4 linked regions of the Homo sapiens genome follow. The protein of the gene in region 2 purifies or fractionates together with the protein of the main gene of each other region. This does not show direct contact. Each region holds a gene or a part of one and is shown on either strand. Other genes may lie near its edges. The genes, in order: DYNC1I1, BICD2, DDX3X and VPS41.

What was found.
Region 1: the proteins of BICD2 (region 2) and DYNC1I1 purify together in Homo sapiens (affinity purification with western blotting; 4 studies listed by BioGRID and IntAct, with this or other methods). This does not show direct contact.
Region 3: the proteins of BICD2 (region 2) and DDX3X purify together in Homo sapiens (affinity purification with mass spectrometry; 2 studies listed by BioGRID, with this or other methods). This does not show direct contact.
Region 4: the proteins of BICD2 (region 2) and VPS41 purify together in Homo sapiens (affinity purification with western blotting; 2 studies listed by BioGRID and IntAct, with this or other methods). This does not show direct contact.

The regions. Positions count from the first base shown.
Region 1 is NC_000007.14:95,767,902-95,775,562, forward strand, and holds the start of DYNC1I1 (cytoplasmic dynein 1 intermediate chain 1), read left to right. Parts: upstream 1-4,652; 5' UTR 4,653-4,872; intron 4,873-7,661. UniProt on the Homo sapiens protein: Acts as one of several non-catalytic accessory components of the cytoplasmic dynein 1 complex that are thought to be involved in linking dynein to cargos and to adapter proteins that regulate dynein function.
Region 2 is NC_000009.12:92,761,823-92,769,624, forward strand, and holds the start of BICD2 (protein bicaudal D homolog 2), read right to left. Parts: upstream 3,012-7,802; 5' UTR 2,923-3,011; coding exon 2,683-2,922; coding exon of another isoform or gene 2,602-2,682; intron 1-2,601. UniProt on the Homo sapiens protein: Acts as an adapter protein linking the dynein motor complex to various cargos and converts dynein from a non-processive to a highly processive motor in the presence of dynactin.
Region 3 is NC_000023.11:41,329,202-41,337,177, reverse strand, and holds the start of DDX3X (ATP-dependent RNA helicase DDX3X), read right to left. Parts: upstream 3,017-7,976; 5' UTR 2,926-3,016; coding exon 2,881-2,925; intron 1-2,880. UniProt on the Homo sapiens protein: Multifunctional ATP-dependent RNA helicase. The ATPase activity can be stimulated by various ribo-and deoxynucleic acids indicative for a relaxed substrate specificity.
Region 4 is NC_000007.14:38,738,191-38,745,208, forward strand, and holds part of VPS41 (vacuolar protein sorting-associated protein 41 homolog), read right to left. Parts: intron 5,353-7,018; coding exon 5,212-5,352; intron 3,932-5,211; coding exon 3,795-3,931; intron 1-3,794. UniProt on the Homo sapiens protein: Plays a role in vesicle-mediated protein trafficking to lysosomal compartments including the endocytic membrane transport and autophagic pathways. Acts as a component of the HOPS endosomal tethering complex.

The sequences.
Region 1 (7,661 bases), on a different chromosome or scaffold from region 2:
ATGTCAAAATATCAACATTAACAGGAGTTTGGAAGAAGTTAATTCCAACCCTGTTATGGTTTGTTTATTTGTCCCCTCTAAATCTCATGTTAAATTGTAATCTCCAATGTTGGAGGTAGGGCCGGGTGGGAGGTGTTTGGATCATGAGGGCAGATCTTTTATGAATGGCTTGGTGCCCTCCCCATGGTAATGAGTGAGTTCTCACTCTGAATTCACAGGAGATCTGGTTGTTTAAAAGACTGTGGCACTTTCCTTCTCTCTCTTGCTCCCACTCTATTCATGTGATGCATCAGCTCCCCCTTTGCTTTCTGCCATAATTGTAAGGTTGTTGAGGCCCTCACCAGAAGCAGATGCCAGTACCATGCTTCTTGTACAGCCTGCAGAACCATGAGCCACAGTAAACTTCTTTTCTTTATAAATTACCCAGCCTCTGGGGTTCCTTTATATCAATGCAAATGGACTAATACAAACCCTCATGGATGACTTTGAGGGGCTCAAAACTTAAGTGAAGGAAATCACTGAAGATGTAATAAAAATAGCAGGAGAACTAGAATTAGAAGTAGAGTCTGAAGATGTGACTGAATTGCTGCAATCTCATAATAAAACTTCAATGAATGAGAAGTTGCTTCTTATGGAAGAGCAAAGAAAGTGATATACTGAGATGGGAACTACTGCTGGTGAAAATGCTATGAACATTGTTGAAATGATGACAAAGGATTTCGAATATTACATAAACGTATTTGATAAAGCAGTGGCAGGGTTTGACATAGTTCACTTCAGTTTTGAAGGTTCTGTGGATAAAGGGCTACCAAACACACACTGCATGCCTGTATCAAAATGTCTCCTGTACCTCATAAATACTAAATACCTTCTATGTGCCCATAAATTTGTTTAAATGCTATCAAAGAGCATGACATGCTACAGAGAAATCTTTCATGAAAAGAAGAATCAATGGATGAGGCAAACATCATTGTTGTCTTATTTTAAGACATTACCACAGCTACCCCACCTTCAGCAACAACCACCCTGATCAGTCAACAGCCATCAACATTGAGGCAAGACTCTCCACCAGCAAAAAGATTACAACTCACTGATGGCTCAAATGATTATTAGCATTTGTTAGCAATAAAGTATTTTTAAATTAAGACATGTATATGTTTTAGACATAATGCTATTGCACACTTAATAGGCCACAGTATAGTGTAAACATAACTATTATATACACTAGGAAACAAAAAAATGTGTATGACTCACTTTTATTGTGATATTTGGTGATGTGAAACTGAGCTCACAATATCTCCGTAGTATGCCTGCATTTTCTTTTTCTACAATTTTGACTACTTTAGATACTTCATATGAGTGGAATCATACACTATTTTACTTTTTGTAACTGACTTATTTCACTTACGACAGTGTCCTTCAAGTTCATCCACACTGTAGCATGTGACAGGATTTTCTTCCTTTTTAAATATAAAATTTTACTGTATGCATATATATTCCAAATTTTCTTTACTTATTCATCTGTTCATGAACATTTGGGTTGCTTCCACCTCTTGGCTATTGTGAATAATGTTGCATTGAACATGAATGTGCAAATATCTCTCTGAAATCCTACTTTGAATTATTTTGGTTAAATACTGAGAAGTGATAATATTATAACTAACTTTGAAATTGAGGGCTTAATTTGCTGTGGGCATACATTACAGGCTATTTGTCATGAATACAACTTGGCAAACTCAGGCCTTTTAAATCCTGACCTGGATTCTTTGAATGAACTTTAAACTTGTCTCTTAAGCTTTTGCTTGTTCAATCCTCTACCCGAAGATAGCCCCAGATGACTCTTCCCAAGTGTCATTCTCTACTCAAAGGCCTTTAATGATTCTCCATTATCTGCTCTACAGCCCTTCTCAAGGCCCCAGTTGGCTCTCCCATGAGTCTGTCATGATCCAAAAAGCTGGCCCACTCACTATTTGCTGAGTACACTTTGTTCTTTCTCTTCTTTGGAGCTTTGTTTACGCCTGAAAATGTTCTCTGCTCTTCATTTCTGCTCTAAAACCCTACCTATTTCAATACTATCTATTGTCATAATTCTAATTTCCTCCTTCCATCTCATCCACCCAAACCATTGTACTGCTTTGGGTATTTCCTTATTGTTTGTCCTTAATTATGTTGCCTTTACCTATCCTTGCACCTCCAACTGGATTTTAACCCCTTCAAGAAGAGGGATTATATTCTCTTTTTTAAATCATGTGAAGCTCCAAGCACAATGCTTTGCAGGTTGTGTGCGATGCAGTACAGGGGAGCCCCCAAATTAATTGGAGCTTAGCTCGCAAAGGTTCTTGGCTTTGCCCAGGAAAGAATTTAAGGGTGAGCCAGTGGTAGGGTTGAAAAGTACAGCTTTGTTGAAGTGGCAGTGTTACAGCTCTGATGGTGTTACAGCTCTGTGACTGTTCCTGCAGAGCAAGGCTACCCCACAGGCAGAAAGTAACAGCTCAGGGTAGTTTTGCAGTCATATTTGTACCTACTTTAATTACTTGTAGATCAAGGGGTAGTTTATGCAGAATTTTTAGGGAAAGGGTAGTAACTTCTGGGTCATGGGGTCATTGCCATGGAAGGGAGTGGTAACTCCTGGGTTTTGCCACGGCAGTGGTAAATTGACATGGCACACTGGTGAGCATCTCTTATGGAAAGCTGCCTCCGCCCCATCCCTGTTTTAGCTAGTCTTCAATTTGGTCCAGTGTCTAAGTCCCAGCTCCTACTTCGTGGGCACTCAACAATGCCATGTTGAGGCCAGGCATGGTGGCTCACACCTGTAATCCCAGCACTTTGGGAGGCTGAGGCAGGCAGATCACTTGAGGTCAGGAGTTCGAGACCAGCCTGGCCAACATGGAGAAATGCCATCTCTACTAAAAATACAAAAATTAGCCGGGCTAGGTGGTGTGCACCTGTAATCTTAGCTACTCAGGAAGCTGAGGAAGGAGAATCGCTTGAACCCAGGAGATGGAGGTTTCAGTGAGCCGAGATTGTGCCACTGCATTCCAGCCTGGGCATCAGAGGGAGACTCTGTCTCAAAAAACAAACAAACAAACAAACAAAACAACAACAACAACAAAAGCAATGCCATGTTGGAAAGACCAAAATACAAAGTAGTTAAAGTACAAGCTGCAGATGAATGGGAATTCAAATCTCAGCTAGATCACTCAGTGGTTATGGAACTTGGGCAAGGGAGTTAACTTCTTTGACTCAAGTTCCTTTTCTGGAGGCATGGCATTCGTTATATGTACTACATAATGTTATAGAAAAGTTAAAGAAAAATGTATGTAGAATTGACATGTATTAAATATTCAGTCACGGTAGTGGCAAATATTTATTTCCTAGATTTTTCCTTCTGGAATACCTTGAATACCTTCTACCTAGACATTTAACCTCTTCATTTCTAGCCATAGTTACAATCGCAGTAGATTAGCCAGGGAGGCCAAAGTTTTAGAATAAGGATGGCCATTTACAGATGAGTATGTATTCATACTGTATTCATACTAGAATCTGTATTTATTTTGAAATTACTGTAGTACTTGTGAATTAATAAGTTCATAAATATTTACTGAGTACCCATTATATATCAGAATGCTGTTCTAGATACTAAGAATACAGCAGTGAACAAGATAGCGTCCCTGCCCTCCACTAATTTACATTCTAATGTGTAAAAATACACCACAGATGTGCAAGAAATATGATGAAAAGCTCATCTATAAAATGATACCAAACCCCCTAACATCCCAAACTCAATTTTTTGGCCTTATAACTTAGCTGTTGTGGCAAGCTTGTTTTTTGCAGAGTCCAATAATAGTTACCCAGATTTTTTTTTGTTTCCCCGAGACGGAGTTTCGCTCTTGTTGCCCAGGCTTTGAGTGCAGTGGCGGGATCTCGGTTCACCACAACCTCCGCCTCCCGGGTTCAACCATTCTCCTGCCTTAGCCTCCCGAGTAGCTGGGATTACTGGCATGCACCACCACGCCCGGCTAATTTTGTATTTTTAGTAGAGACGGGGTTTTTTCATGTTGGTCAGGCTGGTCCCCCAACTCTCGACCTCAGGTGATCCGCCCTCCTCGGCCTCCCAAAGTGCTTGGATTACAGGCGTGAGCCACCGCGTCTGGCCAGTTACCCAGATTTTTAAAAGCTGGGACTTTAAGAAGCAATGTGAAGACAAGCTACACACACACCACACCACACACACACACACACACACACACACACACACAGACACACACACTTAATTCTTTTTTCTTCTAGAAAAATTGGGATCAATCAGACCTATAAGTCATTGTGTACAACAGGTAGATCTGAGCTTTATTTCTATTTAAATGACCTTAAGAAGTGTAGTTGCCTGGGAGTGAAAGTTGTTCAATGGTGGCATTTCAGCAGGAGCTCCCAGAATATTGAAGCTCTTCTCTTTGCAGCAACTGAGGTCTAAGTCCTACCGACGTTAGAGGGATAGACGAATTGACCTTTCCAGGTCCTCTGCTCGCCACCAGCCTACGGAGCGGCGCCACCCCCTCCTGGCGAGACCGGGCGCGGAAGACGCGGAGCGGAGGCCCTCCCTCAGGAGGGGCGCGGGCGTGGAGGGCGTGGGCAGGGGGCGGGGCGAGCCCCGCAGACTGAGTGCTCCGGGGAGCTGTCAGTGTCAGGCTCTGGGAGAGAGGAAGTGATCGCTCCCGGAGGAGCGCGAGCCGAGCGGCCGGCGCAGCGTGAGACAGCACATCCTGCCCGCGCCGGCCCCGCCACCTTCGGGAGCCGCCTGCACCAACGCTGCCGCCGCCCAGGAGCCGCCGCCGGCTCGGGGAGCCCAGTTCCGCCGCTGCCGAGCGCGTCCAGGTAAACTGGAGCGGGATGTCGCCGCTCCCCGGACGGCCGCCTCCGCACCTCTCCCCAACCCTCCCCACCCCGGTGTCGTCTGCGCTGGGAACCAGGCTGGAGCCGAGGCCCCTGCAGCCGCAGCCGGACCCTTGTCCTGGCCCCCTGCCCAGGCTCCTGCGTGCTCCGCTGAGCCCGAAGGCGGCCAAAGCCCCCCAGTGACACCCCCCTCTCGGCAGAGCCGAGAGACTAGGGCAGAGAAGGAAGGGTCGTGGTGTCACCACCTGGTCGCCCACCTTGTGGGCTGGGAAGGGCGTCCCAGTGCGCCCCGCCTCGGTCTTCCCCGGGGGAGCAGTGGGCGAGCGGCGCTGAAATCTGCACCCCTCTGGGCCACCGGCTGACTGCCCCTGGAGGAGGGGGAAAGCTGCAGAGGGAGGGGAAAGGATGCTGTTTGATTACATTTCGAGCTGTCTGCAAAGCTCTTAGATGCTGTCACTACCCTGCAAGTCGGAGGGAGCGAATTCACTTCCAGCAGGGCATTAATTAAACACTTCAAAGCGAGAAGATGCCAGTTTCTCTCTGCTGCGAAAAAGTGTGGCTGGGGGATGTTGTTTTGGTAAACACCTTCACGGCCGCCTGGCTCTCCTTCCCCCGCTCCCATTCGGAATCGCTCTGGCCTTATAAATCCGTGCGTCGTCATCATAAGGGCAGTGATCCTGGCAGCGCTGATGGGAACTGAGTGTGCGGGAGTCTCATGACTTGTACCTTGGCTAATAAGATTAAACAGAAGCCCAGGATCAGGACAGGAAATTACATAGGAGATCAGAGACTCAACAACATGCAGAAGATGGAATATATTCGCTATTCTGGCCTCTACTAATCCTAGGTAAGGGGCAGGAACAAGTAGCCAGCCATTTTCTTGCTTGGAATGCCTTTCAAGTGGGCATTGTAGACTTATTGTAGTTCAGAGTTGTGAAGAATTGCTTCCAAATATTCCAGATTAGCAAAAAGTATAGCTAACAGTAAGGCATAGGCAACTGCAGGTGACAACCCAACGCCTGATGTTAACACAGACATGGGTAACCAGTCTGTGTACATACTTTAATTGTGGAAATTATAGAGATATACGTTGATCAGTGTTAGTAAATTTGAAAAGGGAATATTCAGTGCAATTTGCAAGCTGAGGGTACTGGTGAGAATGTAATACTACCTCTAATTATTTAAAATGCCAAGTTTGTTCAAAAAGGTTTGGTGTGGAAAAAGGGGTCCTAACTCAGCTCTTTTGATCATATTTCTCAATAAAATAAAATCTGAAACACCTGCCACTGAGTTACCACATGTTCTCTTCATAAGAACTAACTCTCGAATATTTGTTTAGGTCTGAGGATCCAGTGCTCCAAGACCCATTCCTCTTAAAACCTCTAGCACCATCCTTGGGAAGTTTTTAGAATACAGTTGGGGGTCGAATGCAGGCTTTTCCAGCCTGTCAAGCTCTTAGCCCTGTTTCTGGCCCACAGCATCTCAGCATTTTACTTTGTCTTCCTTGTCTCAGGCCTCAGATACAAATGCACTTGCTTCCTCCTTCTTTGGACCTCTGAGATGCTGCAGCCGCTGGTGCACAGTCCCCTGGAGGAGGAGGGGCTGGCTTGCAGTCCTTCCCCACCCCCAGCCTTTCCTCCCTCTTTGCTATTGAAAACATGCATGATTGTTTTACTGTTAAAGCTTTAGGTAAATCACCAGTAGGGATATGAGCAGAGAAAATAAACTCGACCCGCAGGAAAAGGGGCAGAGTTCTTAAAGTAGTGGTCCATGGTCTTCAGTTTCTGACTAACTTCGAAGAGAGTAAGAAGTCACTTGGCATTTCAGTCACCATGTTTTATATCTCAGAGAAGGCTCTAGGGTCTTTCTTCCCAATCCCTCTGCTTCCAAAAATACTCCTTCCCGAGTCTACGTTTAATAAATGAGCCTTGCCTTTGATGACAGTGCTGAGTCAAGGATCCAGCCTGGGTGCTGCTCTGTCCATAAAAACAGCGATGTAGACCAGTCTTGTAAAATGCATGCCAAATCTGAAATCTAGGTACCCCTCTTAGTACAGACAGTGTGCACCGGCTTCATCCTGTTACCGTTTTCTCCAGTTTCTTTGTTGTTTAACGTAGCATCAAATGAAAAGGTCACATGCATCTGTTTCAAAATCTGTTTCAAACAAATATATTCCTTCATTACTTTATTCTCCCTACACTTGAAACAAAGATTGATAACAGTAGCTAAAATATATTGAGCACTTTACCAGGCATTGCATTTTAAAATACTTTCACAGGTGTTAACTTATTTAAACATCACAAAAATCTTATGAGGCAGATATTGTTTGTAATCCTGTTTTACAGATGAGGAAACTAAGACACAAAGGTGTCAAGTAACTTTTGCTCAGCTACTAAGTTGAGCAAGGCAGCATTTGAATCAAGGCCTGACTCCAGGCCAGGAGTTTTAACCTCTCTCTTCCGTACTATGAAACAATTACACTGGTTAATTTTCATATATTGAATACCAAGCTCTTCTCTTATCTCATTTTAATTCTTATATTAATCCTATGAAGTAGACATTATTATCCATATTTTCCAAATAATTAAATGAGTTAAATGACATACTCAACATCATTTAATAAATGGCAGAGGTAGGATTCAAATGAGATCTCTCCAAAGACTCTAAAACTAGGACCCATCCATTTTGGCTATTGTGCTGTGTGAGAGACAAAAAAGCGAGTGTATGTCTGTATCTTTCAGGTTTGCTCTCCAATTTCAGTGTGATCCATT
Region 2 (7,802 bases):
AGGCTCAAGAAATCACTAGCAGAATGATTAGGCAAAATCAACCAGGGGGCACCCACCTCACTTGTGGTCTCAGCCAGCACCGTGCTATGTTGTCAGCAGGACACAGACACTTCCCCCATCCCATGAGAAAGGCAACAGGACTGGCACTGTCTCCCATTCATCACCACAAGACCCTCCTCAGCTCTGATCAGAAACCCACACACTGGGACCAGCAGGCCAGCGTCCTTCCCTCAACGATCCTATTATCTACAAATGCAGGGCAGAAGTACAAGCAACTCCATTTGGAGCACAATTTATTAGTAACTAAATGCACTTTAGTTCAAGAAATAAAGTTTTCTAAAGAATTAAGGCGGTACACCGCTCTACAGGAGAAAAAAAACCCCACAATTATTGACTCCTTAAATCTTGTGGTTTTTTTTAAATGAAGAGTTAATATTTTCAACTATAATACTGGCCATAATTAAATAGGTTAGCAAGAGCCTGTGTTGGCATGGGTGTGAGGAACACGCATGCTGTTGATGGGGGGTGAACTGGTACAAACTTTCTGGCAACATCTACTGAAACTGAAACGCTGATGCACATTCCTCTAGACTCTGCTAGAGACCGAGCAGAAACATTCTTATCCCACCTTACAAAGGAGAACTAGATTCAGAACAGAGCAGTAATTTGTCCAAGGCCATGTGGCCAGTACATGGAAGCCAGGTGGTGACAAAAAACAAGCAAGCAGACGCCTAAAGAGTACCCACAGAAACAGGTATACCCTCTTCCTGATTCTGCTAGGGACTCACCCTCCAGATACATGCCACGAAAATGCCAAGATTCTTCACTGTGCCAAAACGTTTGTGTCAGAATAGCAAAGACCTGACAAATGAAGGGCACCAAAGCGGGGACAAGTTAAGTCAGCGACAATTCCTTCTCACAGAGGACACTGCCAAACCCAAGCTGTGGACAGAGACAGGGACTGTAGAGGCTGCCCAGGAGCGGCTCACGATGCACTTGGTAGGAGGAAGAGGGCTGCTTCACTGTGTGCAGAGGGAAAAGCGCCCTAACAGATAGTGCTGCCTGCTGGAGAGGGTGAGCCCCGCTACAGGAGACCAGAAACTGGCCGAGTCCACTCCCACTCCATATTCTCAGAGCCCCCTGCCTCCCTATCACACGCCCCACCCTAAGATGGGGACTCTTGCAAGAGCAGCTGCATCTCACCCCTCTTGTAGCTCCAGCGCCACTGGAGCATGCATTGCAGAAGGTGCCAATACCTGCTGACAGACAACAGAATCGAGTCCTGAGGGCGATGGGGGAGGACCCAGCTCCTGCTGGCCCAGGGTCAGCCATTGACTGGTACTAACTGAGCACCTGCTCTGCCCAGACATCCAAGCATCTGCTTGGATTCATTCTCTGCTCTCCACAGACGGGTCTCCTCAGACACGGGGGAGGCAAGGAAGGCTGCAAATGATTTAGGCACCTGTCTGGGCTGACTGGGAGCAGAGGTGCCAGGTGATAAGCCTGGAAACCAAGAGCCAAGGGCTCACCAGGACACACTCAAGTGGGGGAAGGGAGCACACCACCAAGCTATACTCCTGACCGCACACCAGTCCTTTCCAAATACATGACCCTCACAACAATCCTTTCTGGGCACGCAGTACTGCACTCCCATTTTGCAGAGGGGGAAACTAAGACTCACGGAGGGCCTCTACCCAAAGCCACATCACTAGCAAGGGGCACAGCCTGGATCCAAACCCTGGTGTATCCTCCCAGAAAGCAATTCCTGCAAACAACGCTATGGAGTCAGGGAACGGGAGAAGAGAAGCTGGGGAAGGACTGTCCAAGACTCCCGCTGCCCTGCCGCCTGGAGACCCTCGACCAGCCTGGTGGTCTAACCTACTCTCCCCCCAGTGGGAATGACACAGACCACTGAGGTCTCCGTCCAAGAGGAACACAGCAAGCCACAGCGAGGGGAAGGGCCCGAGAAGCGGGGCTGGACAGGAAGTGGGCCAGGGAAGTCATGCTAGCTGGTGGGAGCGCAATCCCGGCCATGAGGACACAGCGCTGGGCCTGGGGCAAGGGTACTGGGGGACCCATGCCAGGGGCAACCTCCACGTGCAACCCCGAGCCCCTACTCACTTAGGCCGCTGTCCACGACCTTTCCCCACCTCGGAGGCACTCATGAAAGAAGCAGAAACGCTCCGAAAGTAGCTGCGCCCAGAGAGGGGAAGTGCTTTCTCTGAAGGTGACAGAGCCGCAGCCACCCAGACCCAGGCCCACCCTCGGCCTCTCCCAGCGGGTCACCAGCATCCGTGGCCTCAGCTCCCGGCTCAGCCACTGCCCTCCCAACCCCACCCCACACTCAGACACACCCGGAACAGCGACCACCGCAAAGCATCAGCCCTTACGAAGCCCCGCCCCGCCGGGGCCGCCCAGGTCCGCACAGAAGCAGGCGGGCAGCTGCAGGAGGCGACAAGGCGCCCGGACCCCTGCATTAGCGGCGTCTGCAACGGCCGCGGCACCGGCCTGCTAGCCAAGGCCGGGCCCACTCCCACATACTGCCCGTGCCCCCTCCGCCCCGGCGGCCCACCCCTGCCGGCCCCCGCTTGGCAAGCTGACCTTGGCCGCCCTGGTGCCAGGGACGACGCCCACAGGCCCCGGCGCCGGGCGGGGGTCGCAGGGCAGGGCGGCTCGGCTCACCTCCTTGAGCTGCTCCATCTCGCTGCGGATAGCCTCATAGTCCACCTCGAGCTCCTCGAACTGCAGCTTGAGCTGGTGCTTCTCCTCGAGCACCGCCAGCCCGTACTCGGCCGCCTGGATCTTCTCACGCGTGGTCTCGGCCAGCTCGTGGGACAGCCGCTTCACCTCGGCGCGCAGCCACTCCGGCTGCGCCTCCATCACCAGCCGCGCGTACTCCTCCTCCTCCGACGGCGCCGACATGGTGGCCGAGGGCTGAGCCGGCTCCCACTGAGGCTCTCGCAGGCCGGGCCCTCCTCAGCCGCCGCCGCTGCCGCCGCCGCCGCCGCCCTGCCCCGACGGCCGCCCGCCCGCCCGCGCCGCCGCACGGCTCCTCCCCTCCGGCGCGCGGGGCCCGCTGGGGGCTGGAGTCCTGCCTGCGCTCCGACCACAAGGTCCATCATGCCCGGCGCCCGCCCGGCCCCCGGCTATGATTGGCCCATGCTCTGTGAGGGGCGGGCCCTCGGGCGCAGCCACTGACGCCAATGTGGCCCAGGGGGCTGTGGGGACAGTAGTCCCGCTAGCGCACCGACTACAAAACCCGTCCAGCCCCGCGCCCACCCGTCCCCGTCCGTGATTGGCCTGCGCCGCCAGCGTCGAGCCGGATGTACCGGCGCCTTGCAGTCCCCTGGACGGCGGTCGAGTGGGCGCGGCCCCGCGGCCTTCCCCACACTCAGAGCCGGGGACACTGCTCGGTCGCCGGGCCTCGCGCTCCCCTGTGCCTCTGGCAGCCGGCGGCCACGCGGGGTGGCAAGACGGCTGCCGGGAGAACCCCCAGGGGGAGGCGGGTGCGGGGCGGCAGGACTGGGCTCCCGACCGTGGGACGAACAACGCGGACAGAGCCCGGGAGGCCACGAGCTAGAAGCGCATCCGAGAGCGCGGGTGAACGGCTGCTGCTGGAAACCCGTGGACGGTGTGACGCATGCTCTGTGCAGACGTCTGGGGGCGGGAGGAGGACGGGCCAGCAGGGGGCGCCCAGGGGCCAGCGGGAACCTCAGCACCGCCCCTCAGTCCTTCAAGGTCTATTTCTTGGGAATAAAGACATTTCCATTAATACAGGGTCATAAACGTGGTAAATATAATTGTTGTCTCCGCATCTATTTTTAGGCCTGACTTAAGTTGTTTGAAAGCCAGTCGTACCCTTCGCCTTGGCGTAGGTAACACTTCTCCGTATATGGTGGTGTGTGAGATAACTCGTTTATTCTTTATCTCATTGACCTAAAGCGCAACACACCCCACAGCCGCTGACCGCCATAGCACCTAATGGCCAGTATCAGTGCAGATGAGTTCACCCTTCCCTCGTATTTTCTTTAGCCAGTCCACAGGCCCCAAGGGAAATCCTAAAGGATGATTTCCATGGACCCTAGCACAGCCATAGTCCCTTCCTTCCCACCGTCTCTCACTGCCCCTCTCCATCTGCTTGTCCGCCTCTCTTAGGCATCCCTAACCTCTCCGGAACCTAAGAATAATAAATTCCTTCTGTTTTGTACCTTTTAATTTTACTTTCTCATTGTATCTCACCTGAACCCCACACCCATTCGGTTCTCCTAGAGAGTGGCTATCTTGGCTTATGGTCACTCTCCCTCAAGACCAAATTAGAAAGAAGCCATGACAGCAGAAATCACAGCACACAGGGTACTGACACTATCTAATGCACAGTCCACACTCTAATTGCACGAGGGCCCAACACCATACTGGAGAGTTTCAGTATTGTTTTTGTGGTCCAGGATCCAGTTGCATTCAGTCGTCAGGTTTCCTGAGTCTCCTTTGATTGACCTTTCTGAGGAGTGCAGTGCACACTGGTATATGCTCATGGGGTGATGAGGTGATGCGTTTCTGGCAGGACTGTCACTGAGGTGTTGCTGAGTTTTCAGAGCACCAGCCGGGAGGTATGTGATGTCGATTTGCATTTCTCTGATTGATGCTGGGTTTTTCTTTGGTAATTAGTGTCATGAGTGAAGACTTTGCAACCATAGATATAGCCTATGACTCCTCAAACCTTGACCCACTGGTTTTGGCATTCATGACTACTTCTTGCCTGAAATAATTATTACCATACTGTCTGCTTTTTTTTTTTTTTTTTTTTTTTTTTTTTTGAGACAGAGTCTCGCTCTGTCCCCAGGCTGGAGGGCAGAGATGCAATTTCGGCTCACTGCAACCTCTGCTTCCCGGGTTCAAGTGATTCTGCCTCAGCCTCCCGAGTAGCTGGGACTACAGGCGCATGCCACCATGCCCAGCTAATTTTTTTTTTTTTTTTTTTTTTTTTAGTAGAGAGTGGGTTTCACCATGTTGGCCAGGATGGTCTCGATCTCTTGACCTCGTGATCTGCCTGCCTCGGCCTCCCAAAGTGTTAAGATTACAGGCGTGAGCGACCGCGACCAGCCATACTGGCTGCTTTTCTATTTCCATTAGTCCTTCTCCATTTATGAGTTGCCTTTGTACTGTGAGGCACCTATACCTTCTCATCTATTCCCTTCTCTCTCATTCATTAGCAGTATGGATCCATGGATTCTTATTTTACTCCGTGGGTTACAATCCATTACTTTCCTTACTTGCTTTGATGCTCAAATGGTAGCAGATTTGGCCCGTGGGAGCTCCTCCAAGCTGGCTCCATGTCTTCAAAACATCGTAATTTGTTATTATTGTTATTACTTCCTTGATGTCTGATGCAAATTGTTCCAAGATCATCTTGTGCTCTCCATGTCCCAGACCTGAAATCAGTCATTTCCCCAAGGAGCCCTGATTCTTTTTAGTGTTTTGTTTGTCTGAGGAGAATGTGTCATAGATTGGCTTGTGAAATTAACTAATTTTAAGGAGTTCAGTTGTAGTAGGAATAGGAAGACCAACCTTCCTGGCTTACCTGGGACTGTCTTGGGCTGGGCAAATTGTTAACTGTAAGTGGGAGAGCTCCCAGTGTAAAGAAGGAACAAGACTTGTTTGAGTGTGTACTTAGCAAGGGAGGGACTGATGCCCCACAGTGACTTGCCCAAGGTCACACAGCCTCAGGGCAACACCTGCACCTGATCCAGGCTGATCTGACTCGAACCTCCCCACCCCCCGCCATACCTTGCTGTGGGGCAGGTCTGAGGAGGGAGGGAGAAAGACCATGGGAGTCCCACGCAGGGACTGACCATGGCGCTTTGAACTTGGAAACAGGTGGTGGTGGAAGGGAGGCCAGGGAAGGTTTCAGGAACATTCTGTTACAGGTAGGGACTCTCCTAGGTGCTGGGGGCAGAGGGTCTGTCACTACCCTTGTGGTCTTCCTTCTGGCAGGAGGGACAGCTCTGGGTGCGAGTGGCAATGTGTGATGGGGTGGGGTGGATCGGGAAAGGCTTCCCTGAGAAGACACCTGAGGGAGACCCAGAGGATGCACAGGAACTGGCCAGCCCAAGGCTGCAGGAATAGGGGGCTTGCAAAGATAAGAGAAGCAGGGTGATCCTGGCAGCAGATAATGAGCCACCTCTTACTGAGCTCTGCATGTGTTCCCAACATTGCCAGGTACGTGACATACATCTTCTCATTCAATCTTCACAATACCCTGAGGGGTAGAAATGATGCCACCTTCTTCTCCTCAAGTCTCTCTGTCTCTGGCCAGACTCTTCTCCAAAGTTACACCATCAAGCTGTCACTCTGAAGTCAAGCCGCTTCTCTCCAACATCCAGCCATAGTCCCCGACATCCAGCTGCTTCTCCTGTCTGCTGGCTGAGCCTGGGGTCCTTATAGGCAAAGGATGGGGCAGGGCGGGGCCATGGGTAGTTTAGGAAACAGCGACATTTGAGTGGGAAACAGGGATATAAGTTCTTATTTTGGGCTGCGGTTTCAGGCCTTTCAGCTTGACGGTGAGGCTTCACCAGGGACCCGCCCTTTTCTACCTGGAATTTCTCTGCCCCAGTCCCTATCACCTGGACCATTACCGTCACCCTCTCACTGCCTCCTTGCCTCCTCCTTCCCCTAGGCTTCTCTCACAGCAGGGCAGCCAAGAGTTTCCTTAGACCCAAGTCAGGTCCCATTCCCACTCTGCTCAAAACCCAACCAAAGTCAAAGCCCCATCATCACAGCTACCTCCAAGGCCCTGCACGCTCAAGTGTGGCCCTTCCTCAACCTCTTCCTTCCCCTCTCCTCTTGTGTAGCTCTTGTAAACCAAAAAGTATCTGAGACAAATCTTAATCAACTCAGAAAGTTTATTTTGCCAAGGTTAAGGATGCATCCATGACACAGCCTTAGGAGATCCTAATGACATGTGCCCAAGGTGGTCAAGGTACAGCTTGCTTTTATACATTTTTGGGAGACATAATGTCAGAGACATTTGAACCAGAGCAACTCCATCTCAAATAGGGGCTGAGTAAAATAAGGCTGAGACCTACTGGGCAGCATTCCCAGGAAGTTAGGCATTCTAACTCACAGGATGAGATAGGAGGTTGGCACAAGATAAAGGTCACAAAGACCGTGCTGATAAAACAGGTTGCAGTAAAGAAGCCAGACAAGGCTGGGCACGGTGGCTCACGCCTTTAATCCGAGCACTTTGGGAGGCTGAGGCGGGCAGATGACCTGAGGTCAGGAATGCGAGACCAACCTGGCCACCATGGTGAAACCCCGTCTCTACTAAAAAAATACAAAAATTAGCCGGGAGTGGTGGCGGGTGCCTGTAATCCCAGCTACTCGGGAGGCTGAGGCAGGAGAATTGCTTGAACCCGAGAGGCAGAGTTTGCAGTGAGCCAAGATCACGCCACCACACTCCAGCCTGGGTGACAGAACGAGACTCTGCCTCAAAAAAAAAAAAGAAGGCAGACAAAACCCACCAAAACCAAGATGGCAATAAAAGTGACCTCTAGTCATTCTCACTGCTCATAATGTGCTAGTTATAATGCATTAGCATGCTAAGACACTCACACCAGCGCCGTGACAGTTTACAAATGCCATGCCAATGTCAGGAAGTTACCCTATATGGTCTAACAAGGGGATGAACCCTCAGTTCTGCAAAGTGCCTACCACTTCCCCAGAAAACTCATGAATAATCCACCCTTCTTTAGCATATCATCAAGAAATGACTATAAGTATCCTTAGTCAAGCAGCCCATGATGCTG
Region 3 (7,976 bases), on a different chromosome or scaffold from region 2:
AGATGCTTGTGCTGTTCAGTAGAAACTGTCCAAATTTAATTCATGCATTCAAAATAAATTTTCACTAACATGTTCCATAGCACAGGCTCCCTAATCACCAAACTAAAGCTTACACTGAATCTCAAAATTATTCCTCAATGTCAAATAGATAAAGGATTCGTTTTAGTGCCGGTTATGAAAGTTTCCAATGCCAACTTTCCGTAATACTTGATATTTTAAACCTAAAATGCACACCTGAAAAATGTCAGGACAAATTTCGAAGTGGCCGTTCTTTTAGTTAGATACTTCATCCCTAAATATTGCCCAAGTATTTTTAGTCGGGTAGTACTCTTAAGAACAACAAAAAAATAGCAATATACCTACCACTTACAGAACACTATGTTAAGCACAACTCTTAAGTAGTTTGACTGTTTCGTTTGTTTTTATTTTTATTTTTTTTGAGACAGAGTCTCCCTCTGTCATCCAGGCTGGAATTCAGTCATGTGATCTCGGCTCACTGCAACCTCCACCTCCCCGAGTAGCTGGGATTACAGGGGTGCGCCACCACGCTAGGCTACTTTTTGTACTTTTAGTAGAGATGGGGTTTCGCCATGTTGCCCAGGCTGGTCTCCTGACCTCAGGTCAGGTGAACCACCTGCCTTGGCCTCCCAAAGCACTGGGATTACAAGCATGAGCCCGGCCTGAAGTAGTTACCTGTTTTTACCCCATTTTAACATAAGTTCAAAGATGACTTTGAATAAATGGCACAACTGGCGTTCAATGCTCTTAAAGAGTAGGACATCTTAGTGCCTTTCATCTCTATTTCTACCTATCCCCTTACACTGGTAGCTCAAAAGCCTCTTCATTCTAGAAAAGGGTTATGTGCTACCTTCATAACGTTTTATAACCAGGAACTACTCACAAGTAGTTGGGAGAAAAAACTATACATGCAAAGTGTTTCATTTTTCTCAAAAAAGCCACAAAAGACCAAGTCACACAGTACCGCTGCCAACCTGTTTGCAAAAGATGCACTACATACCATGTTTATAAATCTTGTGTTTAAAGCTCAGTATGATACGGCCAAACCGCATGCATCATCAATGGAGTCACTGAAAACTGGAAGCAGATGCTATACTTTTAAAAAATGAGTGTAAGACTTCAGGCACCTAATTTCCAGAATTTCTATGAGCAAAAACACCACTGCGCTTTCTCTTGCTACCATCAATACTTTAAAGCACGGTAGGAACACAAACTTTCCTTTTGCACTTGTTATAGCACAATTTTGCTTTTTAAATAAGGTTCACTGTTGCCTAGAATCCTTAAAAGGACACTATAGCTAAATGGAAAATGGTAAAACTGGGAATACTCTGTGCTGCTGGTAGGTTGTTAAAGTGTCTGTTCAATTCAACATGTGTCAGCAATTAGAGGATTTAATATAATTGGTTCATTAACGGGTAGAAAATGCTTCCAAAGGAACAGATCAATTCCTAAAAAATATTACATATGACTACATTAAACTATGTATTCAATTAATTTGTGCCACTAAACTTCGTCTCAGGATTATTCCGGAGTTTGTGAAATCAACGCTCCCCTAATCACAGTAGACAGTAGTTTATTTAAAAGCTCCGCATAACCCACACAAGAGCTTATCTGAAGCCTGGTGCCACTGTTGCGGTGGGATGCAGACTTCCTGCCACCAAAGTCCATAACCTTCTCCTCTCAAATCACACATCTTTCTCTCCTCTGCCCCTAAACCCTTAGAAGAGGGGATTCTGGCTAAGAGAAAAAACCCGGGGGCCTGGGACCCATTGCAAGATTCTACTCCACAGATAGCAACAAGTCAACAACAAAACTGTTTACTTCCCCCCTAAGCCGGGTGTTTTTCCAATGGCGGATTCCTGGATCACAGTCACTAACACGAAGACACTACCACAACCCGCGATGACCCCTCCACCCCAGAAAAACAACGCGGGACTCCCGGCTAACATACCACACAGGGACAATCTGGGGCAAGCAAGGAGGAGAAAGGGCCTCGCTGGCTCCCTAACCTCCCCGCCACGTCCAACCTCTATCTCCAGGGCCCAGCGCGCAGCGGCCAATTCCTGCCTCCCCTCCCCGCCCCCACCCCTCCCCCACTCCTCCCCAATCTTCTGCGTCACAAAACTTTCCACTCCGGAAACGCAGCCTCCCCGGCTGCGGCGCAGGGCCCCCGGACCCTGCGGAACCTGGGCTGAAGCGAAAAAGCCAGCGGAAGGAACCCGGGAAAAAACAAGAAACCCATTCCATCCTCCTTTCCAGGCCTTCGCCCGCCCGAGACCCGCCGTCTCCCGGAGGTGAGCCACAGCGCCGCCCAGCACCACACAAAAGAGGCCGCCGCCATTACCCCGAGCGAAGGCCGCCCCCTCCCACATTCCTGGGCCGCGTTCTACCCCTTGCTCGCAGGCACGCAAACACCGGGTGCCGCCAGGTCCTCCGGACGGGAATCCAGGCTGCGCCAGCCGTGAAGGCCGAAGCCCTCCAAGCCAAAAGGGCCTCCAGTCGCGTCCCGCCGCGCTGCGCACTCCCGCAAACCCCCCCAGGTCACTAATCAGTCGGGATTCGCGCATGCGCGTCCCCGCGAGAGCGCGCGCACTTCCTCCCCCTCCGCCCGCCTGCGCACGCACACACAAAAGCCGCCATTGTGCTCGTCCCGGGGACAATACAGCGGGCCGAGACCGGGCCCGGGCGACAGCCCCAACCAACATTCCTATCCCTCTATAGCCCCGGGGCACTCACACCCGCCAGCCCGGGGCACCCAGAAAATGAAAAGTAAGGGTGCCGGTTAGCGCTGCGCCATTAGCCAGGTTAGGTCAGGGGAGGAATTCACGCAGCAGCCAGCCCGGTGGGGTTCTTGCGGCTCACCTGCTGGTCCAGCCCGAGCGCATTTTCCACTGCCACATGACTCATCCCTGAAGAGTACCGAGAACTCGGAGTCTTCCGCTGCTAAGCGAGTGTTTGTTCCACCGCGAAGGCCCTCTCACGGGAGAACTGCGGCTCTGGAGCGCACCGCGCGGCCACGGATCTAATATACCCGCTGGAAAGCCGGCTACGTCAGCACGTACAACGTGTGCCCTCCCTCTCACACCGCAATTCCCTGTCGCGGCGACTTCTGCCCGGCTACTGCGCGCTCCCTCAGGTCTAAGCTCAAGGGATTTCCTACTTAGTCCTGTCGCCCCTAGCAGTCCTGCCTTGGAGCTTAGGGTGCGAAATGCTGTCCCAGTTCTCTCGAGCTACACTTCCCGTGCTCTCCGCTAAAACCCTAGTCTCAGCCTCGGAGTTCTCGAGATCTCGCGAGAACTTGCGTCTCCCGCTTTCCACCGGCTAAGACGCCTGAAAATGTTAACCTAGGCCTCTTCGCCCCCCTTTCCAACCTTACGCATTCGCTCCCCTTTCCAACTCTATGCACTCAGCTTTCGTTTTTCGTTTTTTTTGTTTTTGTTTTTTTTTTCCTAACACTGGCCTTCACTCTTCTTCCTCTCTCAGTTCCCGGGCTTGGAGATGTGGTGGGATTTCTCCGGTCTAATCTGCCCTCGCTCTTCCGCGGGTAGCCTCCCCTTAGTGGGAGCTAGGCAGATTCCCGAAACTGAGAGGGCGGCAGGCCACGTGACCGTAGGTGTCGCGTGCGGTGGCCATTTTGTGAAGCAGGAAACGGTGGCTTGAATATAGAGTGCTCCGGACGGGGGAGGGGAGGGGAAGAGGAGGAGAGAACAGAGGGAAGGGGAGGAGAGGGAGGGAAAAGAGGGGAGCGGAGTAAGGGGAAAGGAGGAGGGAGGAGGGTAGGATGGTGACCGGGGCGGGAGTCGGGGGGAAATGGAGGGGAGCCGGCGGCGCGCGCAGGTGGCCGGACACCTTCCTGCGCGGTTGCCTAGGCAGCGGGGGCGCCGCCTAGAAACACACAATGGCCCCTCCTGGCCAACCCCCCGACGTGTGCGCGCGCGCCTCCGCCCCCGCCCCCCGCGGTGAGGGAACAATGAGACAGACACGCGCTGATCCGGAACCGCCGCTGGCGCGCCCTCCCGGGACCCCGGCTCTCCGCAGGAATGCGGGCTACATTTGCCCCTAGTTTCCTCCCGCGGGGCGCCCAGCGGCTTAGGGCCGGTGACCACCGGCGTTGCGGGGACCCCGCGGGTGGCGAACGGCTCTTCTAGGGCCCAAGGGTGTCGGGAATGTTTGTAGCCGGTGCAACCTGGGCCTGCCGGAGGGGCTGCAGCGGGGTTACCGGCCTGGGCTCGGGGTGACTCTCAGGCCGCTGCGGTGGATGAGGAACAGGAGGAACCGGGTTTCTACCGTCGGTGGAACCTCTTCCTGTGGTTCCCTCCTAGGCAGGCCACCCCAAGTCCCGGCTTCGGTGCCGCAGGCCCTTAAATAGAAGAAGGTGTTTACTAGTGGATTCCCGGCTTTGAGCCGGCGCCCGCACATCCGTAGTTTCTTATGACCGCTTTCCCCTCTCTTCTGACCCTCAGCCCTACGAAATTAAATAAAACGCAGTGGTTTCCACCACCCCCACAAAAGGTCTTCTGCTGCCAGAATTCAAATAGTTCGTGCTCATCACATAATTTACTATACACATAACTTCTCTCCCTTCTCAATTTTTAAAATCGAGACGGAAATTCGAACGAGATAGGGAGAGAATATCACACTGTCGGGGGCAAGTTGTTTAACGGCTTTGGGTCTCAATTTGCTCATCTATAAAAGGAGTCTGCTACATTCCATAACCCTGTGAAAGACCCAACTCCTTTTCATAACGAGTATTTTCTAACGCCCCCTTTACCTATACTGAAATAACAAAACCTAAATTGTTTATGTAAACCTACAAACACAATTTCAAAAAACATGATCTGTCAACAAACGAAAGCAAAATGATTATAATAAAACAATGTATTATAATATGTAAATGCCGCCGCACAGCTACACTAACTGGTGGGAAGACACTTGCCCAGTAGAGCCACAAATGCAAACTGGAAAGGTGTGTTGATTTCACAACTCAAGTTCCATGAGCAGCATTGCTACTAGGAACCTCATTTTCCAAAATGATGAACTATTAATAATTTTTAAATAAAACAGTACAATCTTCCTTCAATTGAAACAGTACCTGCATTTGTGGAAAATTCAGGATATATGGAAACTGGGCAAAGATACTTTGTGTTCATATGTAAAACAGTGTTAGTTCTAGGCTTAGATGATAATGAACTAGTTTTTCACCGACATGTGTCCAGTGATTCAATTATTCGCTCTGTGGGACTGACCAGCATCATAGAACATCCTAGCGTGCCTGGCTCCTGCCCACTAAATGCCAGTAGCTCTCGCCAGTCATTGTGACAACCAGAAATACACAGATTTCTACAATGCCCCTTGGAGAGCCACTAGGTTTAATGATATTAGGGTCCCTTCCTGCCCTGAGATTCGTGGATTCTCATGGAGTTTTGGTGAAGGACCTCGGTTTTGTTTCAGTTTCGTTTTCCTATGAACCAGGGTAAACATGAGTCAGGTTCGAAAACTGTGAGTTCCGACAGCTCTTCAAACTGCATATAGCAACAATGGGATGCACTGACTACCCTGGTTCTGGGCTTTGTTTTACTTTTGAGTAGAGCCGAGTACAGGGTACCGCCATGGGAGTACCTAAAAGAATTGAAATATACAGCAGTTCCCTATTTTCAATTAACCCCTGCTCATAGGCATACTTGGTTCAAACCACCAGGGTATTTTGTTAATCAATACGTTATAATTGGAATATCCAATTGGAGAGGAAGCGGGAAAACATACAAAGCTTTGTCTTTAAACACATTCACTTTGAAAAAGAATGATGTGCACACTTGAGGCAGCTAAATAAATGAGCCAACTTTCACAGCACTCCGAATGACTTTTCCGTTTAGCAACATTTGCATATTTTCTCCACATGGCAGTTATTTGCAAATTTTATTTGAAGTGACCTAAAAAAGGGTTAGAAATGGCTGAAACCAGGCCGGCCGCGGTGGCTCACGCCTGCAATCCCAGCACTTTGGGAGGCCGAGGCGGGCGGATCACGAGGTCAGGAGACTGAGACCATCCTGGCTAACACCGTGACACCCCGTCTCTAAAAAAAATACAAAAATTAGCCTGGGCGACAGAGCAAGACTCCGCCCCCCCCCAAAAAAAAAAAAGAAAGAAATGGCTGAAACCAGGGAAATTTTTTTTTGCACGCTCCCTTTCTTAATGTTTCCAGGCATTTTAACTGTTCATATTGAAGCAAATGTACTTCCTGCAACACCGCCCCCTCCCTCCACTTCCACCCCCATTCCTGGAGGTAGCGCAGTGAACCAGAGCCTGGGAATTGCAATTCCTCTAACTACCAGTTCAGCTCCCTGCTTACAGGCACCAGGCAACTCCCTTGACAGTGCCCTGGCTTCCTTATCTATAAAGTTGGAATAAAAGTAGTCTCTGCCTCCAAGAGTGTTTGGGATTCAAGGGCTTGTGCATGAATTGAAAGTGCTCTGCGAGGCAGGGCGTGGTGGATAATGCCTGTAATCCCAGCACTTTGGGAGGCCTAGGCACGCGGGATCACTTGATTCCAGGAGTTACGGCTTGGTGGCGCGCGCCTGTAATCCCAGCTACTCCAGAGGCTGAGGTGGGAGAATCGCTTGAGTCCAGGAGGTGGAGTTTGCAGTGAGCTGAGATTGCGCCACTGCACTCCAGCCTGGGCGACAGAGTGAAACTCGTCTCAAAAAGAAGGCGGGGGTGGGGGGGAGGAGAGGTAGTGTTTAAGATCTTTTTTTTTTTTTTTAAGTGTTTTGCAGGGAGTAAGAGCTTAGTACCAAGTGGCTCTGGATCCACATAACACGTGTCTAGCTCCCCATCCTCTCAACTCCCTTAGTAGAGTAGGTTGCTCTGGGCACTGGGCTCCCACAGTCTCCACTGTTCAAACTTCCACTGTAATTCCGTGTGGTACTGCAGCTGTGTGTGAGCCCACAGAGGACAGGAAATTTGTCACACCTCTCTATGCAGAATGGAGACAGAGATAGACTGAAATCACATTATTGCGATGCACATAAATAATGTGCCCAAGTAACCTAAAACCTGGGACAAAGATAATTAGACTATTCCGAAGCTAGAAGAAAAGGAGTTGTAAAAGGGATTCCAAGAGATAGGTACCTTAAAGCCTTTAGTGAATTTCATGATTGTCAGTCATTTTTCTGCAAGGTCCAGGGGAAGGGCCTCCTGGGTCCAGCTGATCCATACTTTTCTTTAGGGTGGATTTGGAATAAAGTTCAAAGACATAGAACTTCCCTATAATAAGAAGGATAATTATAGGTGTGGAGGTAAATGCAGTTCCGTACTTACTCTCTCTGTTTTTTGTTTTTTGTTTTTGAGACGGAGTCTCGCTCTATCACCCAGGGGCTGGAGTGCCATGGCACGATCTCGGCTCACCGCAATCTCCGCCTCCTGGGTTCAAGCGATTCTCCTGCCCCAGCCTCCCGAGTAGCTGGGATTACAGGCATGCGCCACCACGCCCAGCTAATTTTCTATTTCTAGTAGAGACGGGGTTTCTCCGTGTTGGTCAGGCTGGTCTCGAACTCCCGATCTCAGGTGATCTGCCCGCCTCGGCCTCCCAAAGTGCTGGGATTACAGGCGTGAGCTACCACGCCTGGCCTTAGGCAATTATTATACTCTCAAACAGCAGATCCGGCCTGGAATCTGCTTTCCTTCCTCAAAGAAGACAAGATCAAAAACAAAATTGTATCAAAGGGCATCTTTTCTACCACTAAAATTGCTAAAAATATTTTCAAACAGCAAAGCTCAGTGCATTTCTGCCTTTGTTCATGCAAAGTGACCGAAGACTGAAGTCTTGGAAGTATAGTGAAGGGGGTTGGGTCATATGCCCTCAGGAGGCCGAGCTGCCTCTTAGGTAGTAGGGGCATTTTAAGCAATCACTCTCTCAGGTGATGCAGAACTTAAAGCCTAGCCTTACCTCACAGATAGGG
Region 4 (7,018 bases), on a different chromosome or scaffold from region 2:
CCCATAATGAAAAAAACTAAGACCCCACTCTAATTAGCAGATTTTTTAGAGATTACTTGTGGCTGTAAAAGGTAATGTAGTCACTGATTTAAAAAAGGCATGAGATTTAGTCAGAGGATCTGTGATCTGTGTTCAAACCCAGTTCATCACCTTCCCAGACTGGCAAATCACTTAACTTTTCTGAGAGACAACCTTCTCATCTGTAAAACAAAGATGATATTTCCTACAGAAGTGTTGTGAAGATTAAATGTTTGTCAAATAAAACCGTCAAAAGAAGTCTTTAAGAACAAAGATGCTGAAATTCTCAAGGGAAAAAAGCCTCCAACTACAAAAATGGACATAAACGCTCAACAACTACATGCTAAATTTATAATGTTTTAAAAATAGAAAATGTAAAAACATTAGAAATTTGTAGCATAAACTGGAAACTGGTCAGTTTACATAAAAACTGAAGTATAATTGATACCATATTGTTTTGGAAGTTATATCAAAATAAGTGCTATTTGTCCTTGAAATCAGGCCTAGGAACATTTAAAGCTTATGAAGTGCAATACATGCCACTTGCATCTTACTGACTTCATGAAGCTTTTAAAATTTGTGCAGTGATTACACTAACAAGGTAGCCGGGTATAAAAACATAGAAAGTTAAAGAAATTAAACACTGCTGATGTAGTTGATTATACTACTTCCTTAAACTATGTCATGTCATAGGCATCTAACAAACCTAATGATGCTAACCTTCGGTTGAAGAGAGCTGTTACATTTTAGAAAACGTGAAACTAAAAGCAGAAGAGTTACTCATTTCAAGTTTTTCCCACAACATTCTCTAACCCGCTTTTCCAATTAACAACTGGCTAATGAATGATCTCCCAAAGCAGTGCCCAAGTTTTAAATGCTGTATACTCTATTGTCAATCTCCCTTTAGAGATTCCCAATGCATACCAGCAAGAAAAGGTGCTGAGAAGCCCTGTGAGAACATTTCCCCAACATCTGACCATAGATCCCTACATTACTGAATGGTTCTTGATAGCCCCTGGGGTTACTGTCCCACCCAGCCCCATCACACACACAGTCACTTCCAGATTCCTGGAAATTGATGAACATGCAAAATTTCTCCCAAATTTTCAGATTGAATAGGGTTGCTAATTTTTTACTTTGCTAGGTGAGAGTATGTGAAAAACAACATAGTTTTATAAAATACAAAATAAAAAAAGAATAAAATAAAAACATGCAAGTGAAATCCTTCTGGAAATTGCAAAATGCTCTCTGGATAGATTTATTTTTACAGTGAACCCTAATAGGTTGCCTAGAGAAAGGAAACACATTAAGCGGTCATTAATACATTATGTAAAAAGAGCAGAAAAATATTTTAAACTCTTTATCTGTGAGGGAAAAATAATGCCTGGAATTCTTTGAACCACCTGCCCCCGGAGAGCATTTTCTGACTGCATTCTCCAACAAGATGCCTGAGCTCCAGTGGGGACTCCAGATGCAGCAGCTTCCACAGGCTCTGCTGCCTTCCCTGTTCATCTCTCCCTCACCCTCTGAGAAGCCACCCCTTGGTTGGGGGATTCACAGGCAACCACAGCTTTTTGGACCCACTAGCTAAATAATTCTGAACCTCCTTAACACATTACCGAACTACATACTTACATATCTTAAGGAAAAGCTCTAATTAAGAAAAAATATTTAGTAGCTTCTTTAGTAGATATTTTTATGTTAGGCATTCATTTTGCATCTAATAATAATTTCATTTTTATTACCAGCTGACTCAGAATGATGCAAATTTATTTATTAAAAATGAATGAACACTGAGATCACAGTGGTGCCCATGAGCTTGGTTCTCTGGAAGAATGACCTAGTCATAGGGATGCACTATGTGGTCTTGCAGTCATTGCGGAGGCTGGCGAAAAAGAAAGGCACAACTTTTAACCTAGTGCAAGCTTCTTGCACTACAGCTGAAAGGCAGAGGGATAATTATTTACTACTTCCCTTGGGGGAGGGTTGTTCAGAGACACCTAAATGACTTCTCATCAAATGTGGATTTGAAACCTAGAGCATATCCTGGCATGCCTGGGGTTGGTAAGGGTCAATGAAGTAAAGGTCATTATCAAGCTCACTCACACTCAGAGGCTTATAAGTTCTGATACTGAAAACACTTTCACCAAAGCCCAATCTGACCTTCAAAATTAGTGACTTCCCCAGGCAGGGACGTCACCTTTCTGGATTCCTAGGGCGTGGCATGAAAAGCCAGCTCCTCACCTCACCTCTCTTTGCCTATTAACCCATTCCCATATTTTTATTTCCTTCTTGACTTTCTCATTCTCCTTCCAATAACCTTTCTCCTGGGTCATCTGCAAACCTCCAAATCCCACTGGAAATATATGCCTATATATCGTTAAGCTTTTTGCGGAACAGGTAATCTACTTCTTTGGCTTAACGAATACCAATTTCTCTCCCATGAACCCAATTTCCCACAAAGCTCTCCGGAGTGAAGGCTGCATGATCTCTCACACCCCCACCCCCATCTTTAGACTTCTTCACTTTTAAAGTCGTGTTGTCCAGTTAATACTACTGTCCCCTGTGGAGAAGCTGGAGCCTGGCTTAGAGCACCTTGTTTCTTCCTCCTGGCCTTCATGTCCATTAGGATGACTCAGAAAGGCTGTGGCCTCAGTTTCTCTACTAATTCTACACAAATGACCTTTACCATCATCCCACTTTTTGAACACGTATACACCATGACTCCGCTTCAGAAACATTAATGACATCACACTCTCTGGCACAACCTCTTGTCCCTGCAGCTCTGCCATCCCTTTCATCTCTTACATCTGTTTTTGATGCCACCAATGTTCCTGCAATATCTTCTCCTTTCCACCCTGCCTCTTACCTAAGGCTGTCACCCTGAGTGCAGGCAGACCTCTACTTTGCAACCTGCATGGTGAATCCTGGCCCAATGGATCTCACATCATAATGCTCCTCAGCTAATAGCCTTTTCTTTTGGCTTTACCTGCAAAAATTGTTTCTAGGAAAGTAATTTCATCCATTATTAATAAAACCTCATTTTCAAGTAAATTAGAGGAAGAACAACAGTCCGAATTTTTAAGGAAATGTTTTAATTCAAGTTCTATAGAAGTTACCAGCATCCTGAAAAATAGTAATTGCTAGAGTCTTTTTAAGGAAAAGATTAAGATGCTTTGTAATTAGTATAATAATTTATATGAAAATAATGAGTTCCACTGTTCTTATGACAAATTCTGATTTAACAAGGATAATAAAGTTGCACTATTCTAGAAAACAGACAAAAGGTTAAATAAAATCCTATATTTTAACAGCTTTCAGGCAACAGACTACTGAATGGCTTCAAGAAAAATTATTACCTTACTGAAAAACATTTTTGTTAATTCCCTCAAACGGATACAATACTTATTCTCCCTAAAAATGTTGGGGTGGCCCGATCTAATGGCCACTATAACTGCTTTCATACTCGCCTCGATTCCATGTTATATTAACCATACAAATGTAAGAATGTCTGCTCAAAAACAAGTGAAAATTGGAGATGGCTAAAGAATCAAATAGCCTTCTTAAGGCCTTTAAGGTATTACTGGACAACGCAATTTTAAAGGTGATGTTTCTAATTACTCTATTTGAACAGTTTTCTAAATATCTGGGCCTAAATAAAATGTAACCATAAAATCGAAAGTTTTTAACTGATACCTAACATAAACCCTAGAAATATTTATCCAGTACTAAGTCAACTAATTCAGATGCTCATTTGTCCAAGAAAGGATACTTACTTGCAAATTGTAGTCTTGCAGAATTTTAACCAAGGAATCTCTCAAATTGGGGATCTCCATTCCTTCCTTAATACGGTGAATCAGTAGAATTGGGTCAACATGTGTGCCAATGTTGTTTAACAAGCCAGTAATAAATGCTACAAAATACCACATAAAACAATGAACATATAAGCAACATTATAATGCAATTTTATTTGCACATAATTTGCATATAATGCAATTTTAGATCAAAAGTAACTCAAAGAAAAAATTATTTCCTTCAAAGTAAGTGTTAAAACCATTTGAATTTCTAAACTCTTAAGAATTAATCTTCTAAACTTCCAAGAACTAACGCTCCTTAAGACATGAAGGAGAAAGTAAATAAGAACTGTTTTAAAACAGTTGAACAAATGATTACTTGCCTTCAAAATACAGTTTTTAGCATCAAATGGGTGTAAATAATATTTATTGACAACTGACTATGGCTCAGGTATCATATACACTTTCCTCAAATACTGTGCAAGGTAGGAATGCTGTGTCCCCATTTTACAGACAAGGGAAATGGGGTGTTTAATTTTTCCAGGGTCACACGGCTAATAAGTAATGTGCCCAAATTCACTCAGGCCAGCCTCAAGTTTATGATATGTTCTGCCACATCACTTTGCCTCTTGAGATCCTTAAACTACTACTTTATCTTGCTAGTTACAAGTGAGATTCTTTATATTGTCAAGAGGATAGTTATTAAAGTCAATTTCAGATTAAGGTAGTTACATGAACACAAAGACTTCCTACCAAACTTAAAAAAAAAAAAAAGGAAAGAGGAAATTTCAAATCACTACTGCTAGTTATTTTCAAAAGAGTTGGGTTTCTGTTAGGTGACTGCTTTTGTTTTTTCCTTTCCAAAATGGGAGACCCAATGCAAACAGTCAAGCTGAGGACCAACAAATACAAACTCTGGGTGTTGTACTGATAAAAATAGTGCAGGAAAGAGGCTAAATACTACAACACAAACATCCAAATATCATCAATGTCCAGAACAGTTACATGTTTCCAAAAAAGACTGGTAAGGTCTATACACTTAAACTATAAACACTCCCATATACAAGCTAAAAACAAAAAAAAACCACACCAACACAACCCAGATGACATTTATTCAATTTGCTTGCAGCAGGTAAAAATATGCCTCATGGGGACACAATTAATAAACTGTGTAGCCACCTGTTCTTCATCACATGCAGGTAATGCAAAGTGATGAGGCTCCAGGTTTTCCAGCACAGGAGGAGTATTGGAAATCATTACAACACACCTGGCCTATTTTTATTGTAGGTACGCTACCATTTTCTTAACCCAATGTATCTTGAAATAGTTTTTAATCTAGACATAACTGGTTACACTGAGAGAAAAAAAAGTTATAACCAGAGATGGCTTTTATGCTTACGTGGTTTGTCAATGGAATATAAAATCAAATCTTCCCACAGCTCTCCATCATCTTGCTCCTTGGCAAATTCGATTGCTTTATCAACATCATGTAATTCCTCCATAATCATCTTCAGGGCACTTCGGCTATTACCCATTCGGCCTTGGTGGGGTGAAGATGGGAGAAAGAGTTCATTTAAGGTATTTTAATAATTTTTTTAAAGAAATTGCATATCTCTTAATTTGTTTACATAGGTGGAAAGCTAAGACAAGGCTATTTTCTCATGTGACACCAACATTTACTGTCTATAACATAGCAAAATAAGTATCTCCTATTTACTGGATATTTACTCTGTACTGAGTACTCATTTAAGTGCCTCATATAAATGACATCATATAACCATCACTACAACCCTATGAGGCATGTTCTACTAATATTCCTCTTTTATAGAAGAGGAAATAGAAATGTTAGTAGCTTGCTAAGATCATACAGCTACTAAATAGTACACTGTGAATTTGAAGCCAGGTCTGTCATACTCTGACTTACTTTTGATAGACTTATATATATTCTGGAGGTCAATACCTTCACATGCAGATACACTTAAAATGTTTAAAGGCCCTAAAGTCATTCTGCCTCATGAGGTAGCTGTGCATACTGCTTTTCTGATACACTTTGTGCCAACTGCAAACTCAACTATCAGAGGGCTTCCTCATTTTCTTCTCTCCCACGTTCAGGGGAAGGCCTTTCAATAACCCTCATGAGATGAAAGTATTTATCAACCATGCCTTCTATTGGCTAATTGTCTTTACATACTTTGCTCACTGACCTATGGCATTTTAATAGTTTAAAGTTTTCCATGAGTTTTTAATATAGTGCATGTAAGAAAGCCTTACTCAGTGGAGGGACAACAACTGCCTGGTTGTAGGTTGTCACCCTTACCCCTGTCTCTGGGCTTGCAGGAACTAGTAAAGGATCTTGAATCCTTCCCCCTGCACACGGCCATTATCAACTGATAAAAGCTGGCTTGTGAATGAAATGATATCCCATTTGATACCCCTTCCACAGCATTTTGTGTTTCTTACAAATATTATTTCCACAGTTTATGTCTCTAAAAATGGTTAGTTATTTAAAAATGTTTACAGGATTATCAAGTTTTTATAAAATCAGACTATATGTCCCTAATAAGTCCTCTACTGCTTCTAAGACAATATGACAAAAATTTATTCCACCAAAATATTTCTTGGGGAGAACACTGTTTGGAATTAGTGAATTGATGAGCTACCTAAAATTGTGATTAGAACCCCAGGAACATGCTGAAGTAACAAAATGCAGCCCCAAAAGCACTTCTCCTAAGAAGGGCAGGTGCTATAACTGGACAGTTCTGGGTTTGTGGCTGAGCACCCATGAATCTGCATACACATAAAAGGGAATAGAGGATTTGGATTATTTTTCAACAGAGGCAAAGAGGCCAATGAGAGTGAGTGCTGTATAAGGGAAAGGCGTAAAGCGGAAAAACCCTACTGAGGTCAGCAGGGAAGTGACAATGGAGAAACACCAAATATGAATGTTATGTTATATGCTACATTATGCAATCCTCAGTACAACCCACATTGTTGTCATGCACGTGGCTCATTTTGGAAGAATGTGAAAAGATGACAAGTTTTGTTTCTTGGTATGCATGGTACAAAAATTGTGACTCATGTGGAGGTAGGAGCCAGAAGACCAGGAACACTGACACCTAGATTATATTAAAAAGCTCTCCTCCTTCTCCAAAACTATGGTATTCAATTGCATTTCCTCTAGTTATTTAGGGTGTGATTTCTAAAAG